Regions from separate parts of the Homo sapiens genome. Here region 1 is linked to region 2. Evidence: fine-mapped expression QTL. A gene starts in region 2. The other region holds a variant in brackets. All regions are shown on one strand. Distances are from middle to middle. Region 1 overlaps SSU72 (SSU72 homolog, RNA polymerase II CTD phosphatase). Region 2 holds the start of LINC01409 (long intergenic non-protein coding RNA 1409).

Region 1 (10,555 bases), 780 kb after region 2:
AGCCGAGATCACGCCATTGCACTCCAGCAGGGGTGACAGACTGAGACTCCATCTCAAAAAAGAAGTCTACCACATTTTACTCTGAGACAAGGAAATGTCCACAGGGAAGTGGCCACACACAGAAGTTAACCTAAAAGACAATGAATTCAGAGGACGGACATGAACAAATGTGCAATTTAAAACACAGGCCAGGTGCAGTGGCAACCCCTATAATCCCAGAGCTTTGGGAGGCCAAGGCGGGCTCATCACATGAGGTCAGGACCAGCCTGGCCAACATGGTGAAACCCCATCTCTACTAAAAGTACAAAAATTAGCCAGGCGTGGTGGCACATGCCTGAAATCCCAGCTACTCGGGAGGCTGAGGCAGGAAAATCGCTTGAACCCAGGGTCGGAGGTTGCAGTGAGCCAAGATCGTGCCATTGCACTCCAGCCTGGGCAACAGAGTGAGACTCTGTCTCAATTAAAAAAAAAAAAAAAAGCTGGGCATGGCATAGGCCTCTGGTCCCAGCTACTGGGGAGGGTGACGTGGCAGGATCACCCACCTGAGTCTGGGATGCCCAGGCTGCAGTGAGCTGTGACAGCACCACTGCATTGCAGCCCACACGACAGAGAGACGCCCTGTCTCAAAACCAAATAATAATAATAATCCAAACCCCAAACGTCATTAGAAAAAATTAGGTAATTAGAAAAAAATCCACAAGAGAGGTACAAACAGTATATGCCAGACACAGGCTTGGTCTCCAGCTGCACGGCCAGACGAGACCCAGGAAAGTGTCAGATGCACTTGCGTTTCACAGGACAACAGTCACATTAACATTTAGAGCTACACGTTTACTTGCTTTTGAAGACAAGTGGTTTTGCAGTTCATAACACAAAAAGCTGGTAAACCTTCACTAACTTACATGTACACAGGATGAACTTTCTGTAGGATCCTGTGAGACTCCCACACACCTTCTCATGTGGCTGAATGGGCTTCCCTGGAGCGGGGGAACTGTCCAGGCCGGTGTCTGCCACCCCAGCCCTCCTTTCACAACGGCCTCTCCCTCCTCCTCTACCCTCTGGGCCAGCGGCTGTTGCCTGGACCCCCTCACTGGGCTGAGTGACACTTCACTAGGTCAGACTGGCCATTCACTAACTTAGAAACAGAAGTCACTTGTCTTCTCCCCAAAGGCACTCCAAGCAAGCTTGGGATGGCTTAACCAGACTCCTTTCAATCAAAAATGAAAAAATCCTGCAAGAAAGCTCAACTATGGAAAGTGGCTTCAGTGTAAAATGAAAAAAAATAGAGAAGCCTCTGCACGTGACCCTGGGAGCCAGGCTCAAGCCCCTCGGCAGGACACCCAGCGCAAAGCTGCTCTACTCCACGTGCCACTGAGGCTGAGCGAGGAAAAGTCATGGCAAAGAAACCTGGGACTTAGAAATAGTTCCACGCATGCTCAGCGAAAGAACAAAAGGCTGCATATGAACTGGACAGTGTGGAATGAGCAGACCTGTAGCACGGGAAGCAGCTAAACTGGACGGTGTGGAACGGGCGGACCTGTAGCACGGGAAGCTGCTACAGGCACTGGGAGGAGAATGGGCAGCAGCAAACGGCCTTGGGAGACGAAAAGCGTCTCAAAACCAATTGTGGTGACGGCTGCAACTCCATGAATGTCCTGAAACCCACAGAACTGGACACGCGACTCAGGGAAGTGCATGATTTGTACATTTTATCTCAATAAAAACAATTCTTGATAAAACGGTCAGTCCACCCAAGGAAAGAACCTACACAGTAGAGTTCCCATTTGTCTACAAAGGTCAGGGGAGCTTAGATCCCCGTCCCTGGTCCAGGTATATACACTACTACTATTATTACTACCCTGGCTGGAGTCCAACAGCACAATCTCAGCTCGCTGCAGCCTCTGCCTCCTGGGTTCAAGTGACCCTCCCGCCTCAGCCACCTGAGCAGCTGGGATTACAGGCACACGCCACCACACCCAGCTACTTTTTGTATTTTATTTTTGGAGACAGTTTCATTCTGGTTGCCCAGGCTGGAGTGCAATGGTGCAACTTCGGCTCACGGCAACCTCCATCTCCCAGGTTCAAGTGATTCTCCTGCCTCAGCCTCATGAGTAGCTAGGATCAGGCATGCACCACGATGGCCGGCTAATTTTTTATTTTTAGTAGAGACGGGGGTTTCTCCATTTTGGTCAGGCTGCTCCCAAACTCTCGACCTTGGGTGATCCGCCCACCTCGGCCTCCCAAAGTGCTGGGATTACAGGCATGTGCCACCATGCCTAGCGTTTTGTACTTTTAGTAGAGACAGGGTTTTACCCTGTTGGCCAGGTTGGTCTCAAACTCAACTCGGGTGATCCACCTGCCTCGGTCTCCCAGTATTGGGATTACAGGTGTGAGCCACTGCATCCAGCCCCATGTATGTATACTATTAATTCCCAAAAGAAAATGTGGATGAAACTTTTTTAACAAGAGTCTTGTTCTCTTCCTCAGGCTGGAGCACAATGGCGCAATCACAGCTCAGTGAAGCCTCCTGCCTCAGCTTCCCGAGTAGCTGTGCCACCACACCCACCACATCTGTGTGTTTTTTGTAGAGATAGAGGCTTGCTATGCTGCCCAGGCTGGCCTCCGGCTCCTGGGCTCAACTGAGCCTCCTGCCTCGGTCTCCCCAGGCTGGAACTGCAGGCGTGGCTCGTCTAACTTTACCGAAGGCTCGCATCCCAGTGCTGCAAACCTAGACTCGTACCCTGACAATCCCCAAGGGAGGTTTCAGAGGCACAGGCAGCAAGTCCCTCAACCCCTCAGGCTCACTTCTGGCTTGTGGGGGAAAAGACCAAAATCAGCCATCTAGAGCCAAATACAGTCTCTAACTTATTATGGCTCAATGCAGGATTTTTTCACTTTAGCATGGGGTTACCAGCAGGCAACCTCACAGAAAGTCAAGGAGATTTTGTATTTAAGAAATGAAAGCTGAGAATAGTGGCTCACGCCTCTAATCCAAGTACTCTGGAAGGCCAACATGTGAGGATCACTTGAGGCCAGGAGTTCGAGACAAACCTGGATAACACAGCAAGACCCATATCTAAAAAAATAATAATAATAAATTAAGTATTTCAATACTAATAGGACAACTGGCCAAAATTTATTGAAGGCTTTAAAACACTGTCTCGGGCTCAGTGTGTGCATGTCCTAATTTATTTAATTATCAGAAATTCTGCGAGGTGGGCATGCACAGAGAAACCTAAGCCCTGGCCACATGGCAAGTAGGCAGATGGCAGTGGTGGGGTCCCCCTCGACCCCGGCCCTGCCTCTGAACAAGCAGCATTTTCCTCCCAAGTCACACTGTCCTTCCTTTTTTATTTTTTTGAGACAGAGTCTCACTCTGTCACCCAGGCTGGAGTGCCGTAGCGCGATCTCGGCTCACTGCAGGCTCTGCCTCCCAGGTTCAAGCAACTCTCCTGCCTCAGCCTCCCAAGTAGCTGGGACTACAGGCGTGCACCACCATGCCCGGCTAATTTTTGTATTTTTAGTAGAAATGGGGTTTCACTATGTTGGCCAGGCTGGTCTCTAACTTCTGACCTCATGATCCACCCACCTCGGCCTCCCAAAGTGCTGGGATTACAGGCCTGAGTCACCGCGCCGGCCCGTCCTTTGTCTTGACGCTGTGAACACTCGACCAAGTGCTGCGTCTTATCTTTGGGCCGCATCTTGAACCCCGTCTTGCTTCCACTGCAGTTTACGGCGATGACTTCTGCCAACGCACCGGCTGCTGTGGGGCAGATTTGCTTTCGGGCTCTCACTTGTAACAGTCACTTCCCGCGGCCCCCCTGCACCCATCACTAACCAGGAAACGTTATCGGGGTCCTCCCGACCTGCACATCTCAACACCCCTGAGGCCCCACCCGGCATCGTGCCAGTGTCCACAGGGAACTGCCTGGGGACTTCACTCCTCTCCAGGCCAAGGGCATCATGTGCAAGAGCTTTAGCTAAGTGGCAGGCTTCCCATTCTGCACCTTCTGCCCCCACCTAGGGGGCAAAGACGCCCCCCGAGTGAAATAAGGTAATGAAGGCACGCTCCTCCTAGAGCCTCCTGAGGGGCCACCACAGGCAATGCCTTTCCCACACGAGGTCCCCAAAGCAGAGCCCGTGGCTGACAGTGTCCCAGCGCCACCCCTGCTGCCACTCCTTCCCCCCACCACACACCAAGAGCACACACACGCACGCGGGGTTCTTCTGGGCCGATGCTTCCTGGGAGATCACCAACCCCTACAGTCCCTCTGTAAAGGAGGAGCTTCCGAATTCTGGGACACTGGGCTCAGCTCCTTCTTTTAGAATGACCAGAGACAGGCTCATCCTCTGCCTATACCAAGTCCTTCCGGATGAGACTGCTGAAGCTGGACTCAGTCCTTGCAGAACGTGGCAAGTACTTCCCAGGTCTGGAACCCAGGAGGTCACAGTGGGCTGACATGAAGGGGCTGAGCTTACACCAATCAAGGGAGTGTGAGGATGTGCGTCACTCTCTGCTTTTCTTTCTCTTACTGAATATACAAGAACTTAAAAATAAACAGTGCTAACTGAAGAGTAATTGTCAAAAACAGGATGTCAGGCTAAGCTTCATGGCACAGAGTTTAATGTGAATCATGAGATGAGACAAAAGCCTCCTCCAGGGCGATGGGAAGACCCAGCCCCAAACCAGACTCTTGAGCA[C/T]GCAGCCCTAAACCAGACTCCGGGAAGGGGCTGCGTGGTCATGCACCGCCTAAGACTCAGAGGTGAAGATGGGAAGACCCAGCCCTAAACCAGACTCCTGGAAGGGGCTGCGTGGTCACGCATCGCCTAAGACTCAGAGGTGAAGATGGGAAGACCCAGCCCTAAACCAGACTCTTGGAATAGGCTCTGTGGCCACCCATCGCCGTAAGGCTCCGGGATGGAGACAGCATGGACAGGGACCTCGCACAAAGGCATGTCGGGAGGGCCTCCTTTCCAAGGCACAGCCCCACCTGCTCCTTCTCAGCCCACGACGGGAGCAGAGCCATGTCGAAGCCGTGCCCCACACAGGGTGGACAAGGACATGGCCTGACAGCTCCTCAGAAATCCTTAGAGATTTTTCCAAACGCAGGTTACCAGGGCTTCTGCAGAGAGAGGGGCAGCAGGACGTGCTGCTGACAGTCCCTGGGGACTTACACTGACTTGCAGTGAGAGCCCACATCTGCCACCAGGATGGCTCCCAGCACCACCGCGTCACAAGCACCACACTCTCCACCGTGGGACGCCCAGATGGCTCGGCAGGCAGGCCGGGCTGGGGAGCTGACAGCAGACGCCTGGGACTCTGCCCAGCGTCCTCACCCACAACCTTTTAACTGTAACTGGCAGAGGAGACAGCAGGGAGGGCAGAAGGTACAGTGATGGCTAGGATGCAGTTCTAGGTTTTGCCAGACATACTTTCAGGGGCCACTCCTGGCTACCTAATTAATCTACCTGTGTATAAGAATTTTTTAGCTTATTAAATATTCCAAGAGGCCAGGCATGGTGGCTCACGCCTGTAATCCCAACACTCTGAGAGGCCGAGGCAGCTGGATCACGAGGTCAAGAGTTCAAGACCAGTTTGGTCAAGATGGTGAAACCCCCGTCTCTACTAAAAATACAAAAATTAGCCAGGCATGACAGCGGATGCCTGTAATCCCAGCTATTCGGGAGGCTGAGGCAGAGAATCGCTTGAACTTGGGAGGGGGAGGTTGCAGTGAGCTGAGATCAAGCCGCTACACTCCACCTTGGGCAACAGGGTGAGACTCTGACTCCATCTCAAAAAAAAAAAAAAAAAAAAATACAAGAGTAGGGCTGAGCATGGTGGCTCACGCCTGTAATCCCAGCACTTTGGGAGGACGAGGAGGGTGGATCACCTGAAGTCAGGAGTTTAAGACCAGCCTGGCCAACATGGTGAAACCCTGTGACTACTAAAAATACAAAAATTAGCCAGGTGTGGTGGCGCGTGCCTGTAATCCCAGCTACCCAGGAGGCTGAAGCAGGAGAATCACTGGAACCCGGGAGGTGGATGTTGCAGTGAGTCTGCAGTGAGCCAAGATCTCGCCACTGCACTCCAGCCGGGGTGACACAGTGAGACTCTGCTGGGAAAGGGCGGGGATGGCAAGAGTGCCAATACATAGACAATGCTGGGCAAGGCCAGAGATGCTGGTCAAGGGCGGGGATGTCGGGAGAGGGCGGGGATGGCAACAGTGCCAACACGAAGATAAAAGGTTTAGCATTTGACACCTATTCTCTTTTCATTTGGAATACGTTTGGCCTGGCCTCCGTTCTGAAAACTACAAATCACTCACTATAACAAAATAAGATCCAGAAACTTTCCATTAGCGTGGGGGTGACCATGAAATGCCTGGTCAAAAACCCGGGCACTGATTGTCATAACCATTATGCAACTGGTGTTGCGTCCATCAGAATCTAGTTTAAGAATACTCTTCTCTCTATAGGAGTCTTCGCGGCAGACCTAGCCTGCTCTGTGTCCTCCTGAAATGAAGGAATGTTCTCTCCCATTATTTCTTCTAACAGCTTGGTTAGCAAGCTCCGCCCTCTTCTTTATCTGACCTTCTAACGACCTCACCAGATGTGTGAAGCAGCCCGGCTCCATGTGTATCAGGCACGCACGCACACACGCACGCACACCAACCTGCAAAGGAAATAACGGGGCAGCCCTGCAGTGTGAAAAGCAATGGGATTTTGTGGGTTCCACCTCCTCACCTAAGCATCCCTGGTCTACGCTATGTCACGACCCTCTGCTGAACCACGTCAGGGTGAACCCCACACCGTGTCTGTGCGCCTCACCACGCCTACTGCCATGGGTGGCACTGGAACTAACCCGTGGACGATCCGACGTGCACCAGGAATAGAAACCAAGCTCTCGCAAAGACAGAGGAGCCAGTGTGTGCACTGCACAGGGTGACACGCCTCCTGTGCCCGAGCCACACGTAACACCTTCCAGGGAGGACCACACGGGGGGTTTTTAAAGGGCAACCCGCTGGGATACAGTTCTTTGTCTTTCCTAAGAAGATCATTGTACATCTGGTCATATGTGGTTTTGAAATCATAAACATTGGGCTTGTCGGGAGCTGGTCCTGGAAGCTTCACGTGAGTCCCTGTTCCAAAGGATCGGACGCTGAATCCCCGTTTGCTGAAAGACAAAAGGAGAGAAAGAATCACAGTCACACTAAGACACAAAATTCCAAAAGCAAGGGACAGCAAATGGGATAGAAACAAAATGAGTAATTTCATTGGCTCATAGTAGAGAATATGTCTTCAAATTTTTAATCTAGGCCGGGCATGGTGGCTCGCGCCTGTAATCCCAGCACTTTGGGAGGCCAAGGCAGGCGGATCATGAAGGCAGGCGGATCATGAAGGCAGGCGGATCATGAAGGCAGGAGATCAAGACCATCCTGGCTAACACGGTGAAAACCCGTCTCTACTAAAAATACAAAAAATTAGCCGGGCGCGGTGGCGGGCACCTGTAGTCCCAGCTACTCGGGAGGCTGAGGCAGGAGAATGGCGTGAACCCGGGAGGCGGAGCTTGCAGTGAGCAGAGATAGCACCACTGCACTCCAGCCTGGGCGACAGGCTGTAGCAAGTTACACAAAAGCAATCAAACCAGAACTGACCATCACAAAGCCACATCTGAACATCATAGCTTGTTTAAGGCTTTACTTTAAACTGAAAGGACTGACTGATGTGGACTTGGGGAAGATTTCATCAGAACATTTTGGCCATCGACCAACGTCCTGGCTTTGGAGGATCCAAGTTCACAGGATTCCTAAGGGACTCACAAAGGTCCAACTGCCCGCTCCACCACAGGAAACTCTGTCTCCCCCAGTTTCCCAACACCCCCACGATGTGGCTCCATGGGAACCGAGACCCAACACCCAAAGGAGTCCCACAGGCTCAGGGTTGCTGCAGGCAGAGAACAGATGCCGCGATGGGTCCGACGGTGCTTGTTCCTTGGACTTCCTAGTCACAGGTGAGGAAACTGACCAAATACTTTTCCTAATCAACTGGAGAAAAGAGCTGAACAGGAAACGTGTGTCATGTGCCACCAATGAGCTCTAGTTCACGCAAGGAGAAAGAGAGGTCGTCTCCAAACACTGATGGAGTGTGGTAAGACCAGAAAATTCTTCTGTCATCGCTGACAAGCACACTTAAGTTTGTCACAACAAGTTACATGTAAAAAAGTTACTTTGGCACCGAGTGCGGTGGCTCACACCTTCAATCCAGGCACTTTGGGAGGCCGAGACAAATGGATCACCTGAGGCTGGGAGTTTCAGACTAGCCTGGCCAGGAGGCGAAACCCCAGCTCCGTTTCTACTAAAAAAAAAAAAAAAATTAGCTGGGCATGGTGGTGCGTGCCTGTAATCCCAGCTACTTGGGAGGCTGAAGCATGAGAATCGCTTGAACCCAGCAGGCACAAGTTGCAGACATTGGAGATCTCACCACTGCACTCCAGCCTGGGCAAAAGAGCGAGACTCTGTCCCAAAAAAACAACAAAAAAAGTTACTTTGGTATAGAACATGTGTTCTTGTAAAGTCACAACTGATACTTATAATTACCTAAAAAATATAGACTTCTCAACCTAGCTTTATTTATAAATCACAAAAGGTTTGCATCTGAAGGAATCTGCCTGGCTCAGGGCGCAGGGCGCACATACACTTCCATTAACACTAAACTCCTCTTACAGGCCTGTCATTCTTGTTCAGAAAAGTGCTGCTGCTTCGCTCTTGAGCAAGAATGACACACAGACACGTGAGGAGTTCCATATTATTTTAAAAAAAGAAAAGTAAGGCCGGGTGCGGTGGCTCACGCCTGTAGTTCCAGCAATTTGGGAGGCCGAGGTGGGCAGATCATGAGGTCAGGAGATCAAGACCAGCCTGGCTAACATGGTGAAACCCCATCTCTACTAAAAATACAAAAAATTAGGCGGGCGAGGCGGCGGGCGCTTTTATAGTCCCAGCTACTCGGGAGGCTGAGGCAGGAGAATGACTTGAATCCGGGAGGCAGAGGTTGCAGTGAGCTGAGATCGCGCCACTGCACTCCAGCCTGGGCGACAAGAGCGAGACCCTGTCTCAAAAAAAAAAAAAAATTACTGAATGTTGAATGAGTAACAGTGTCACAAGAGAGGAAAAACTCAGGCAGAGGGGGCTGCTGGAGTGTAACCAGTCTCTATGCGGATAATGGGGCAACACCCAGCAAGTGAAAACTACCTGTGCCTTTCTCACAGACACTGGCTTCTAGAAACCCGCCCTACGGACATACACGTGCCTCTGCAACATGGCTGCCTGCAGGATGCCCACTGCCGGCCTTCCACAGCCACAAAAGAACAGACAAGTAGAATAATCCATCCATGGGGCAGGACAGGCCATGCGGCTCCACGCGCACCTCCGAAGATGAGTAGAGGAAGCAAAAGAGCCCAAGGGCACCCTGCTGCGCCACCACACACGTCACCCACACACACAGAGAAGATGTGCTCATCTAGTGTACGTGAAACACCTGAGTCCCCTGAGGCTGATGACAGCTGCGTCAGTCCTTACATCCCTAGATATTCCGAGCTACACAACCCGGCTCTCCAAACATCTACCACACACGGCCAGAAATGTGGCACAATAGCAGCGATTCATGACTACAAACCCGTGTTCACGGCACCCGGACTGTGAAATAAACGTGAAAATGCTAAAATTAAAATTCCTGACATTCAGTCATAACCACAGATCCTGACGGAAACATGAGGTTAAAGCAATAAAGTCAACTGTTGGTTGTGACTGAGAGGGTGACGGAGGCCCAGACACAAGGCATACCACAGGGAGCACACGTGAGAAACAACAAGCCTAAAATGACTTCCTTACCAATTCAGACAACATACAATAAAATATGTTCCGTCAAAGCACAAACAAGGGCCGGACGCGGTGGCTCACTTGAGGTCAGGAGTTCGACAACAGCCTGGCCAACATGGTGAAACCCTATCTCTACTAAAAATACAAAAATTAGTCATGGTGGCACACGCCTGTAATCCCAGCTATTCGGGAGGCTGAGGCAGGAGAATTGCGTGAACCCCGGAAGCGGAGGTTGCAGTGAGCCGAGATCGCGCCATTGCACTCCAGCCTGGGAAACAGAGCGATACTCTGTTTCAAAAAAAAAAAAAAAAATCGCACAAAGAAGCCCAGGATCAGCGTGATCACAGCAGCCAAAGGAGACAGCCTGCCTCCCAACACCAACAAGAACTCACCACCTGCTGGACGTTCCTTTAAGTTAGCCTATTTAAAAACAAAATGCAGTTTGTTTTTCCCCCAACAAAAGGTTCACGAATGGCAAAAAGGCTATTTAGCAACAGAAGCAGTATTTCTCCCAAACTGATGCAACCGACAGGGCAGCCAGCTTGCGACTCAACAGCGTTTCTTACATAAAAGCAAGGACAGCTTGGAAAACACTCCTGACACCAACAGGCTTCGCCTGAAGGGCCAACGCCTTTGTAAACTAATCTTCCAGACAAGTATTTGTCTGGTATGCCAAACAA
Region 2 (10,555 bases):
TTGGAAGCCCAGGAGCATGGCCCCTGTCCACAGATGCACCTGGCATGAGGCGTGCCCAGAGGGACAGAGGCAGATGAGTTGCGTCTCCTCCACTGGATTGTGAGGGCCTAGAAGGAGACAAGGGTCTGCTTGAGAAGGCAGTGAACAGCGAGCAGCCTGAGGCAGTGCCCCTCTGGATGGATGCGCAGTGCCTGGATGGAACCTGGCTCAGACAGAGCTCAGTTCTGCAGGTCCCTGAGGCATGGAGAGTTCACAGCTACCAAGTGTAGGAGTCTGGATTCAAAGCCAACGGCGTGACTCCAAAGTCCCTGCCCTAGCCCCTGGACCACCCTTGCAGGCCCATCAGATGCCCAGGCCAGCAGCACAGCCGGCCAAGACCAGGGAAACTTGGGGAGCCTCAGAGCACCCCCAGGTATTCCAACCTAACCCTGGTGCCCCGCCTCTCACCACCCTTCTTCCTGCTTTTACCTCAACCCCTACACAAAGCCTGGGCCACTTAATGTGGCATCAAACAGACGCCTCAATAAATCAGTCTAATCTCGAAAAAAAAAAGGCTTAACAGATATACAATTGCACGTTAGAATGCTAAAGACCATAAACATATAACAACTTAAAGTACATATAAATTCAATATATATCCAATCATTGTAACTATGACACAGTAGAATATTAAAATACTATTTTCAAAATGTATACAAGCTTAATGTTCTATGTATTCAAACTGTTTATTCAAAATACAAATCATCAACATAAATTGCCACTAATATTCAGTCCCTTCACAGGACATGATTCACTGGGAGTTAATAAATTAGCAGCCGGCAGGCAGTGACACACCGCAAAAATGAAAACCAAGAGGTGAAATAGTTCTGAAATAAAGGTTTTAAAGCTAACAGAAATCACTGAATTACTAAGTCATTAGCACTAATTTTGAGCCAACTAACTAATTAATATGAGATGATACAATGTCCTATACTTTGGTAAATACAGACTATGTTTAAACAATGTCTGTAACGTGACTTGTAAAATGCTCCTGGCTTTACAAAGATGTGATTAAGATGTAGTAACACATGCTAAACCATTTCCCCCTGCAGAGCATGTGGTAACTTTCATCAGTCACATTGAGAGTCCAGAAGATAAAGGAAAAGGTCATGGATTTCGCTGAGAACTTACCAGAGTTGAACTCCCTCATTTTCCGTTCCCCAGCATTGGCGGGTTCTGGGACTGGTGGCTGTGGTGGCTCGTTGGTCTTTGTCTCTTAGAAGGTGGGGAATAATCATCATCTTGAAAAAGAAAAAATGGTCATTACTGAAGGAACCATCTTAGGTTACAGCCACCTCTGGGTCAATTCCCAACATTCAAAAGCTGAGCAGGGCTTTAAAGCTATCTTATTAATAATTATTTCTGTATTGCGAACTTCAGCATACTTTTTTCTAGTTACATTTGAAATGTTATTCTTTTGGGATGTGCTCAAGTGAGTACTGCTTTTTCCTCTGCCTTGCTTCATTACTTTTTAGTTTCCTTCATTTGAATCATCATTGTAAGTCTCCCCTTCTCCTCAAATAACTTTCAAATTGCTGCCAAGAACTATGTTCTATCTTAAGGCTTTTGAGAAAAAACTTTCAATGAAGATAGCCGCCTAAAGTTATACAAATATAGAAGAAACGGGATAAAATAAAGCTTAGATTGGAAAAAATATTTAAGATTCTACAAAATTCACGCGTAAACAAGGGAAGCTGAGTAATTGTATGTTCAAATACTTGCAAAACATGTAGGCTTAAAGAAATAGAGCTGGCCAGGCATGGTGGTTCACGCCTATAATTCCAACAGTTTGGGAGGCCGAGGCAGGCAGATAACTTGAGGTCAGGAATTCAAGACCAGCCTGGCCAACAGAGTGAAACCCTCTCTCTACTAAAAATACAAAAATTAGGCCAGGAGTGATGGCTCATGCCTGTGATCCCAGCACTTTGAGAGGCCGAGGTGGGTAGATCACCTGAGGTCAGGAGTTTGAGACCAGCCTAACCAACATAGGGAAACCCCGTCTCTACTAAAACTACAACATTAGCCAGGTGTGGTGGCACATGCCTGTAATCCCAGCTACTCGGGAGGCTGAGGCAGGAGAATCCCTTGAACCCAAAAGGCAAAGATTGTGGTGAGCCGAGATTGTGCCATTGCACTCCAGCCTGGGCAAAAACAGCGAAACTCCGTCTCAAAAAAAAAAAAAAAGAAAAAATTAGCCAGGCGTGAAGTTGCGGTGAGCTGAGACTGCACCATTGCACTCCAGCCTGGGTAGCAGAGCAAGACCCTGTCTCAAAAAAAAAAAAAAAAGAGAGAGAGAGAGAAAGAAAGAAAGAGGGCTACATTATTTATGAAACAGGTACTGTTAACTCAGTCACCAGAAAGCCTGTGTATAAATGAGCAGTGAGATATTCAAGCACAGCACACACACACTTCTCAGGACAGCTGTCGTGAGTGTTCCATGCTCATTTCCTTCTGGATACATCAGCAACTCACTCTGCTATGATCCTGCAATACATCTCATGTTAGAATTAGAGACATCTGGGCCAGGCACAGTGGCTGACGCCTGTAATCCTAACACTTTGGGAAGCCGAGGCAGGCAGATCACCTAAGGTCAGGAGTTCGAGACCAGCCTGGCCAACATGGTGAAATGCTGTCTCTACCAAAAATACAAAAAATTAGCTGGGCATGGTGGCGCGCGCCTGTAATCCCAGCTACTCGGGAGCCTGAGGCAGGAGAATCGCTTGAACCCGGGAGGTGGAGGTTGCAGTGAGCCGAGATCTTGCCACTGCACTCCAGCATGGGGGACGGAGCAAGGCTCTGTCAAAAAAAAAAAAAAAAAAAACAGAAAAAGAAAAAGAAAAAAGAATTAGAGACATCTGGATCAAATCAGCTGCCAGTCTCGCAAAGTGTCGGGTAACATCCTATTAAGCTTGCTGCTTACACATCATCTATAAAATACTGAAAATATCATTTTAAGAAATCTTTTTTTTATTTTGAGACAGAGTTTTGCTCATTGCCCAGGCTGGAGTGCAATGGTGCGATCTCAGCTCACTGCAATCTCTGCCCCCTGGGTTCAAGCAATTCTCCTTCCTCAGCCTCCTGAGTAGCTGGGATTACAGGCATGCACCACCACGCCTGGCTAATTTTGTATTTTCAGTTGAGACAGGGTTTCTCCATATTGGTCAGGCTGGTCTCGAACTCCTGACCTCAGGTGATCCACTGACCTTGGCCTCCCAAAGTGCTGGGATTACAGGTGTGAGCCACCATGCCTAGCCAAGAAACCCTTATTTTAAAACAAGCCAGGCGCGGTGGCTCATGCCTATAATCCCAGCACTTTGGGAAGCCAAAGCGGGTGGATCACTTGACGTCAGTAGTTTGAGACCAGCCTGGGCAACATGTTGTAACCCCATCTCTACTAAAAATATATTTTAAAAATTAGCTGGGCATGGTGGTGGGCACCTGTAATCCCAGCTTCTCAGGAGGCTGAGGCAGGAGAACCACTTGAACCTGGGAGGTGGAGGTTGCAGTGAGCGGAGATCACGCCACTGCACTCTAGCCTGGGTGACAATAGAAAGACTCCATCTCAAAAACAAAACAAAACAAAACAAAACAAAAAACCACTAAAAAAAAGACTCCATTTCAAAAACAAAACTAAAACCAAAAACACAACACAAATGTAGTACACAAATGAAAATAATTACTGTGTTAAACACAGTTTCATAGAAAATAAAAGACCAATCAAATACAATAAGCTGCCTTTTTAGATGGGTATGTTATTCTTCTTTCACAGCTAAAGAAACAGGCTCAGAGAATGTTATTTGATTGGACCGTGTTGCATTTCTGGACAGTGCAGCTGAGATCAGACTTTGTGTGTAACTCCACTAGCCTACCAGGGTGCCTCTCATAAAGCTAAGAAATGTAAATTTGGCCTAATATACAAAGTTGCCAGGGCAGCACTGGGTCAATTCTACATACAGTACTTCTATGTTCATCAAGGGAAACCTTAAGGGAAAGTGAAAATGCTTCTAGAAGGCGACTGGACACCAGCGCCTTTGCTTGTTGCCTTTGGGCTCTTCTTCTAAGGCCAACAGTGACCTGAAATTATTGACTGGCTTTTCAATCAAGTGGACAAAATGGTACCAAGGTCGGCAACATCAGACAAATTTACTTGAGGGCCTTATCTATGCGCTTTGAAAGACAAAACTGCTTTTGTAAAGGACACTGTATTTCAGAAAAACATAATCATATTAACAAATAATAACACTGTAAAATGCTGATGTGTTGAATGCTACTTTAGAAAAACATGCTCAAATCTAGGGAAAAAATTTGATACAAAACTACGTATCAATTATCTAGCTAGCTATCTATCTAGAGACATGCTTTCATTCTATTGCTCAGGATGGGAAGCAGTGGGATTATCATAGCTCACTGCAGCCTTGAGCTCCTGGCCTCAAGTGATCCTCCTGCCTCAGTCTCCTAACTAGCTAGGGCCACAGGTGGACACAGTTATGCCTGGGTTTTTGTTTGTTTGTTTTGTAGAGACAGGGTGTCACTACATTGCCCAGGCTGGTGTCAAACTTTGGAGTCTCGCTGTGTCGCCCAGGCTGGGGTGCAGTGGTGTGATCTTGGCCCAGTGCAACCTCTGCCTCCCGGGTTCAAGTAATTCTCCTTTATCAGCCTCCCAGGTAGCTGGGACTACAGGCATGCGCCACCACGGCCAGCTAATTTTTGTATTTTTTGTAGAGACTGGGTTTCACCATGGCCAGGCTGGTCTCCAACTCCTGACCTCAGGTGATCCACCCGCCTCGGCCTCCCAAAGTGTTGGGATTACAGGTGTCAGCCACTGAGCCTGGCGGAGCACTTTATGTTATTAAGTAGCCTAACCCAGGTGGGTCGCTGTCCCTCACGCCTGTAATCCCGACAACTCTGATGGCCAAGGTGAGAAGATTGCTTCAACTCAGGAGTTCGAAACTGGCCCGGGCAACATAGCGAGGCACCCCCCGACCCCATCTCTAGAAAAAAATACAAAAATTAGGCCAGGTGTCCACCGCGCCCGGCTAATTTTTGTATCTTTTGTAGAGACGGGGTTTCGTCATGTTGCCCAGGCTGGTCTCGAACTCCTGAGCCCAAGCCATCCATCCTCCCGCCTCGGCCTCCCAAAGTGCTGGGATTACAGTAGGGCCCAGCCAGCCTCATGTTTTATTTAGCAGTCCCTCCCTGTTGCACACCTGGATAGTTTTTTAAATTTTTTTAGACAGGGTTTACCTCAATCTCGCAGGCTGGAATGCTGTGGTGGGATCATAGCTCACTGGAGCCTTGAACCTTTGGGTTCAAGTAGCTGGGGGGCTGAGGTAGGACTACAGAGATGGGGTTGCGCCATGTTGCTAGGCTGCTCTTGGCCTGAAGGGTCCTCCCGCCTCGGCCGCGCCAGACATAGTTTTCTATTTTTGACCAACATAAACACTGTGCTGGGTCTGAATTTTTCAGCTACCCTTCTTCAGCCGGCAACACACAGAACCTGGCGGGGAGGTCACTCTTACCAGTCCCCACTCTGATGAGAAAACTGCCCAGCTCCAGGCACCATGGCGCCCCAGTGATGTAGCCGAACACCCGCGCCTCTAACGTCGCCAACGGCCCACCTCTATGGTGTCGGCGAAGACCCGCCCTTGTGACGTCACGGAAGGCGCACCCTTGTGACGTCACAGGGGACTACCACTCACGCAGAGCCAATCAGAACTCGCGGTGGGGGCTGCTGGTTCTTCCAGGAGCGCGCATGAGCGGACGCTGCCTACTGGTGGCCGGGCGGGATGTAACCGGCTGCTGAGCTGGCAGTTCTGTGTCGCTAGGCTTCTGCCCGGCCGCCGCCGCACATAAGCCACGAGGAGGAGCTTTACGACTTCCCGGTCTTCGGCGCCGGGCGCAGCAAGGGCCAGACTCTGCGCTAGCAGGCGCTGCGCGCCAACCGGCCGGCACCTGTCGCAGAAGGTGCAACCGATCGCACTGTCGCGCAGAAGCTCCTCAATGGCCAGCGCCAGCTGCAGCCCCGGCCGCCCACTCGCCTCATCTGAGCCTGGGTACGTGCGCTCCACAACGCCTCCCCCAGCCAGGGCCCGGGGATCCCCGGGAGCGTCCCCGGCTACCTGGCGCCGCTCATCCTGGGTAGGGTCGGCCCCCTGAGGCTGCCCGGCATGAGGGAGTTGCACCCCTGAGCTTGACCTCTGACGGTCCTTTGTAATAGCATTAAGTCTTTGAAACTTGTAGCGGGGTAGAAGGGGCTAGGAAATGAAGAAAACATCTTTTTAAAAATATAAGCAGTCGGCTGGGCGAGGTGGCCCACACCTGTAATCCCAGCACTTTGGGAGGTCGAGGCGGGTGGATCACGAGGACAGGAGTTCAAGACCAGCCTGGCCAGCATGGTTTCACTGAAACCCCGTCTCTACTAAAAACACAAAAATTAGTCGGGCGTGGTGGCAGGTGCCTGTAATCCCAGCTACTCGGGAGGCTGAGGCAGAGAATTGTTTGAACCCGGGATGCGGAGGTTGCAGTGAGCGGAGATCGCGCCACTGCACTCCAGCCTGGGCAACAGACCAAGACTCCGTCTAAACAAACAAATATATGTGTGTATATATATGCGATCGAGCCCGGGAGGTTGAGATTACAGTGAGCTGAGATTATATAAGCGATCGAGCACTGGAGGTTGATGTTACAATGCGCTGAGATTGCGCCATTGCACTCCAGCCTGTGTAACAGAGGGAGACTCTGTCTCTAAAAAATTATATGCAAGTGAGAGCTTTTCTTCCAGCACTCATGCTCAGACTGAAGAAAGTAATTGGGCCAGGCCCGGTGGCTCACGCCTTTAATCCCAGCATTTTGGGAGGCGGAGGCGGAAGTGGGTGGATCACTTGAGCTCAGGAATTCCAGACTAGTTTGGGCAACATGGTGGAACCCTTTCTCTACAAAAATACAAAAAATTAGCTGGACATGGTGGCACGCGCTTGTAGTCTCCGCAACTTGCCGGGCTTAGGCGGGAGAATCGCTCAGCTGCAGCCTCGACCTCCAGGGGCAATCCATTTCAGCCTCCCAAAGTGCTGAGATTACAGGAATGAGCCATCGTGCCTGGCTTTACACTATATTTTAACACTTTTTTTGAAAATGGAAACTTTTACAGGCAATTCACTTCCTTCAAACTAATGATAAGGAAGTGATGCTGTTCTGTTCTGTTTTGTTTTTTGTTTTTGTGGGTTTTTTTTCTTTTTTGAGATGGGGTCTTGCCCAGGTTGGAGTGAGGTGGTGCAAACAAGGCTCACTGCAGCCTTGACCTTCGGGCTCAAGGAATCCTTCCCCGTCAGCCTCCCCGGTAGCTAGGACTACAGGTGCATGCTACCACGCTTGGCTAATTCTTTTTTTGAAATGGAGTCTCACTCTGTCTCCCAGGCTGGAGTGCAGTGGTGCAATCTCGGCTCACTGCAGGCTGGTCTCAACCTCTGACTTCGGATGGTCCACCCACTTCTGCATCCCAAAGTGCTGGGATTACAAGTGTGACCCACCGCGCCTGGCGATTTTGCTCATTTTAGATACTAGAACTTTTTAATTTAAAATTTTTTTTTCCTGAGATGGAGTCTTACTTTGTCTCCAGGCTGGAGTGTAGTCGCGTAATCTCGGCTCACTGCAACCTCCACCTCCTGAGTTCAAGCGATTCTCCTGCCTCAGCCTGCCAGAGTTGCTGGGACTACAGGTGTGCACCACCACACCCAGGAGTTCAAGGCTGCAGTGAGCCATGATCGTACCACTGCACTCCAGCCTGGGCAACACAGCGAGACCCTGACTCCACAAATAAATAAATCAACGTCATATGATCTGTACCAGGGTATAGGCAGGTGCTATGATCCCCACTTTTCATCCTCAACTCTAAGTTGAGTCATACATCAACCTCTAGTAAAAAGTGGCATGCTCTCAGTCAAAGGGGTAAGCCCAAACCACGTGGAGAGAATCTTATCTCTTTTGAGAGCTAATATAAAAAGAATTCCTCCTAGGCATAAAAATATTATGACACCAGTTACTTAGGCTAAACATGCCTATTATGCTAAGTGAGTTATTAACAATAAATACTTTAACTCTGTGCCATGTTAATTATCATAATCTGATTTATAATTTGTTTTAACCTTAGGTTATATATACCTTGAAGCCATTTATATTTTGGTATACTTGTAATAATTACTATACACTGGACTATGTATATTGGACTAAACACGGAGAGTCAAAAAAGAGTATGTGGTCAGAGTAGAAATCATGCCCTAGCTTCCTTCGTGTCTACCTCCTACCTTGAGTAGAAGTGGTAGAAAAAGTAATTACCTAAGATTTTTTGGATTCTGGTTTGTGGAGAAGCACCCTTATATTTAGGCTGATGGGCGGCAAAATTAGAAAGTATTTTTTGTGATTTAGAATTTTATACAGAGATGTTCATTGTGATTAATTATTCTTTGTATTAGCAGATTTTTGCTTTTTATAGCTGCATGATTTCTTGTTTATTATTCATTCATTATTGTCTATTAATAAAGAAAAACTTTATTTCACTGAAGCAGTGATATATAATCCAACTTGGATTTTTAAATAATGACTGACTTTTTTTCTTTGGGAATACATTACTGTTAAAAATGTAATTATTAGATACATTACTTTTAATGAATATAAGTGGTATAATTAGAAGGCTGAAAAGAATCCTTGGAAACGTGAGTTTAATTTGATAGCTAAGAAACTGAGGACAAGATACTTATTCTTTGTAGCATATTTTCTAATGTCATTTCATTGTCTCACCAAGAAATACTTGCATAAAGCAAGTTCAATTACAGTATCTGTTGAATATTTAAGGTTGAGTAAAGTGGGTGAGTTTAACAGATATTTTCCCTTATTTCTTTTAGGCAAATCTGGATTGGGAAAGTTGACATTAATCAACTCATTATTCCTCACAGATTTGTATTCTCCAGAGTATCCAGGTCCTTCTCAGAGAATTAAAAAGCCTGTACAGGTCTAGATATTGGTATTTTTAATTGATGATAAGCTGGAATAATATTAATACACACAAAGCACGTGTTGTAACTTTCATTATGCTTCCTTAGAGGTAAGATGCAAATTTGCCCTTAGCCAGTGTAAGATGGTAAATATGACTTCATAAAATCAAAAAAACAGAAGAAGTACAGTTAATCGAAAGATTATCTTGACTAGAACTTTCCAAATTTGTCCTAAGGATTCTCCTAGAGATGACACTGTGACATAGTAACCAATTCCCCTGGAGTTGTGCTATGTAGTATGATAGTCATTTGCCACATGTTTAAATCAATTAAAATTAATTAAATTAAAATGCAATTTCTCATTTGCTCCAGATACATTTCAAGTGCTCAACAGCCACATGTGGCAAGTGGCTGCCATTTTGTGCAGCACATATATGAAGATTTTCATCATTGTAGAAAATTGCATTGGACAGTGTAGAGAAAACATGATTCATAGAAAAACTATTGTTATTTAAATACAGTGTTCTATATTAGTCAGTGGGATAATACCATATCATAGTTGAATGGCAATAGCAATTCTGTAAGACTCCCAAGCTATATGTGATCTAATTTACTGCTTCTCAGTCTTTGCTATGCATTCCAATCCTGGGTATCCTGTTAAATTTATTTCTTCTAGTAGTTCTGAGATGGGCTGCCTTTCTACATTTCTAACAAGATCCCAGGTGATGCTGATGCTGCTGGATGGTAGATCACACTTTATAAAGCAAGGGGCTAGACTCTAGATATGCACTTTTTATTAAATAGTACAGCAGCCTGTAGCCACATGTGGCTATTAATCTTTGAAATGTGGGTAGTCTGAATTGTGATGTTCTGCAAACATAAAATATGCCACAGATTTCTAAGACTGAGCATGGAAAAGAAAATCTCCATAATTTTTTATATTGATTGTATACTGCAGTGATAATATTTTGGATGTATCAGGTTAAATAAAATTGACTGATTTCACCTTTTTCCTATTTTAAAAGTGGCTACTAAGAAAATTTTAAATTACTTACATGACCGACATGGTATTTTTATTTGGCAGCGCTGCTCTAAGCTGTTGATGAAAAATATTGTTGGTGAGCTCTGCTTAGGTAATATATAGGACATGAGCAGAGAGGAGGCACGTGAACAGTTCTGGCCTGGAGTAGGCTTCATTGAGGCTGTGATGCTTTTAGCTGGATTTGAAGAAGTGGTAGTGATCATCCCAGTGCACAGGATAGGTGGACAGTCTATGTATTCTGAGCAGTAACTCATATATCTCATACTGCAAGACCCCAAAGGAGTAATTTTGTGAAGTAAATATCTTATTTCTCCTTTTTAATGTTTCTATTTTAGGAATTTTTTTTTTTTTTAGTAACCTTCATAGGGCTTGAGATTTAAAATTACCTGCAAAATTCTACTCTAAAAACTTGATCCTACATGCTTATTTTGTGATAAATATTGGAAATTTTAAACCTAAGCAAGAAAATGAACTTTGAACTTTCTTA

The links.
Region 1: its variant is fine-mapped to the expression of LINC01409 in uterus (GTEx, PIP 0.98).

What each region holds. Positions count from the first base shown.
Region 1 is chr1:1,557,743-1,568,297 of GRCh38, forward strand. SSU72 (SSU72 homolog, RNA polymerase II CTD phosphatase) reads right to left here. Exons shown (of 5, transcript NM_014188.3): 2 at 7,031-7,174. Among named protein-coding and RNA genes, the nearest start is that of SSU72, 12 kb to the right of the region's middle. The variant C/T (reference allele first, on the strand shown) is at 4,702.
Region 2 is chr1:773,001-783,555 of GRCh38, forward strand. It overlaps LINC01409 (long intergenic non-protein coding RNA 1409), which reads left to right and starts at 5,798. Exons shown (of 6, transcript NR_187359.1): 1 at 5,798-6,092; 2 at 8,937-9,136. It overlaps LOC100288069 (a long non-coding RNA gene), which reads right to left and starts at 5,634. Exons shown (of 20, transcript NR_168328.1): 1 at 5,284-5,634; 2 at 1,171-1,280; 3 at 1-107. RefSeq lists an enhancer at 5,351-5,920.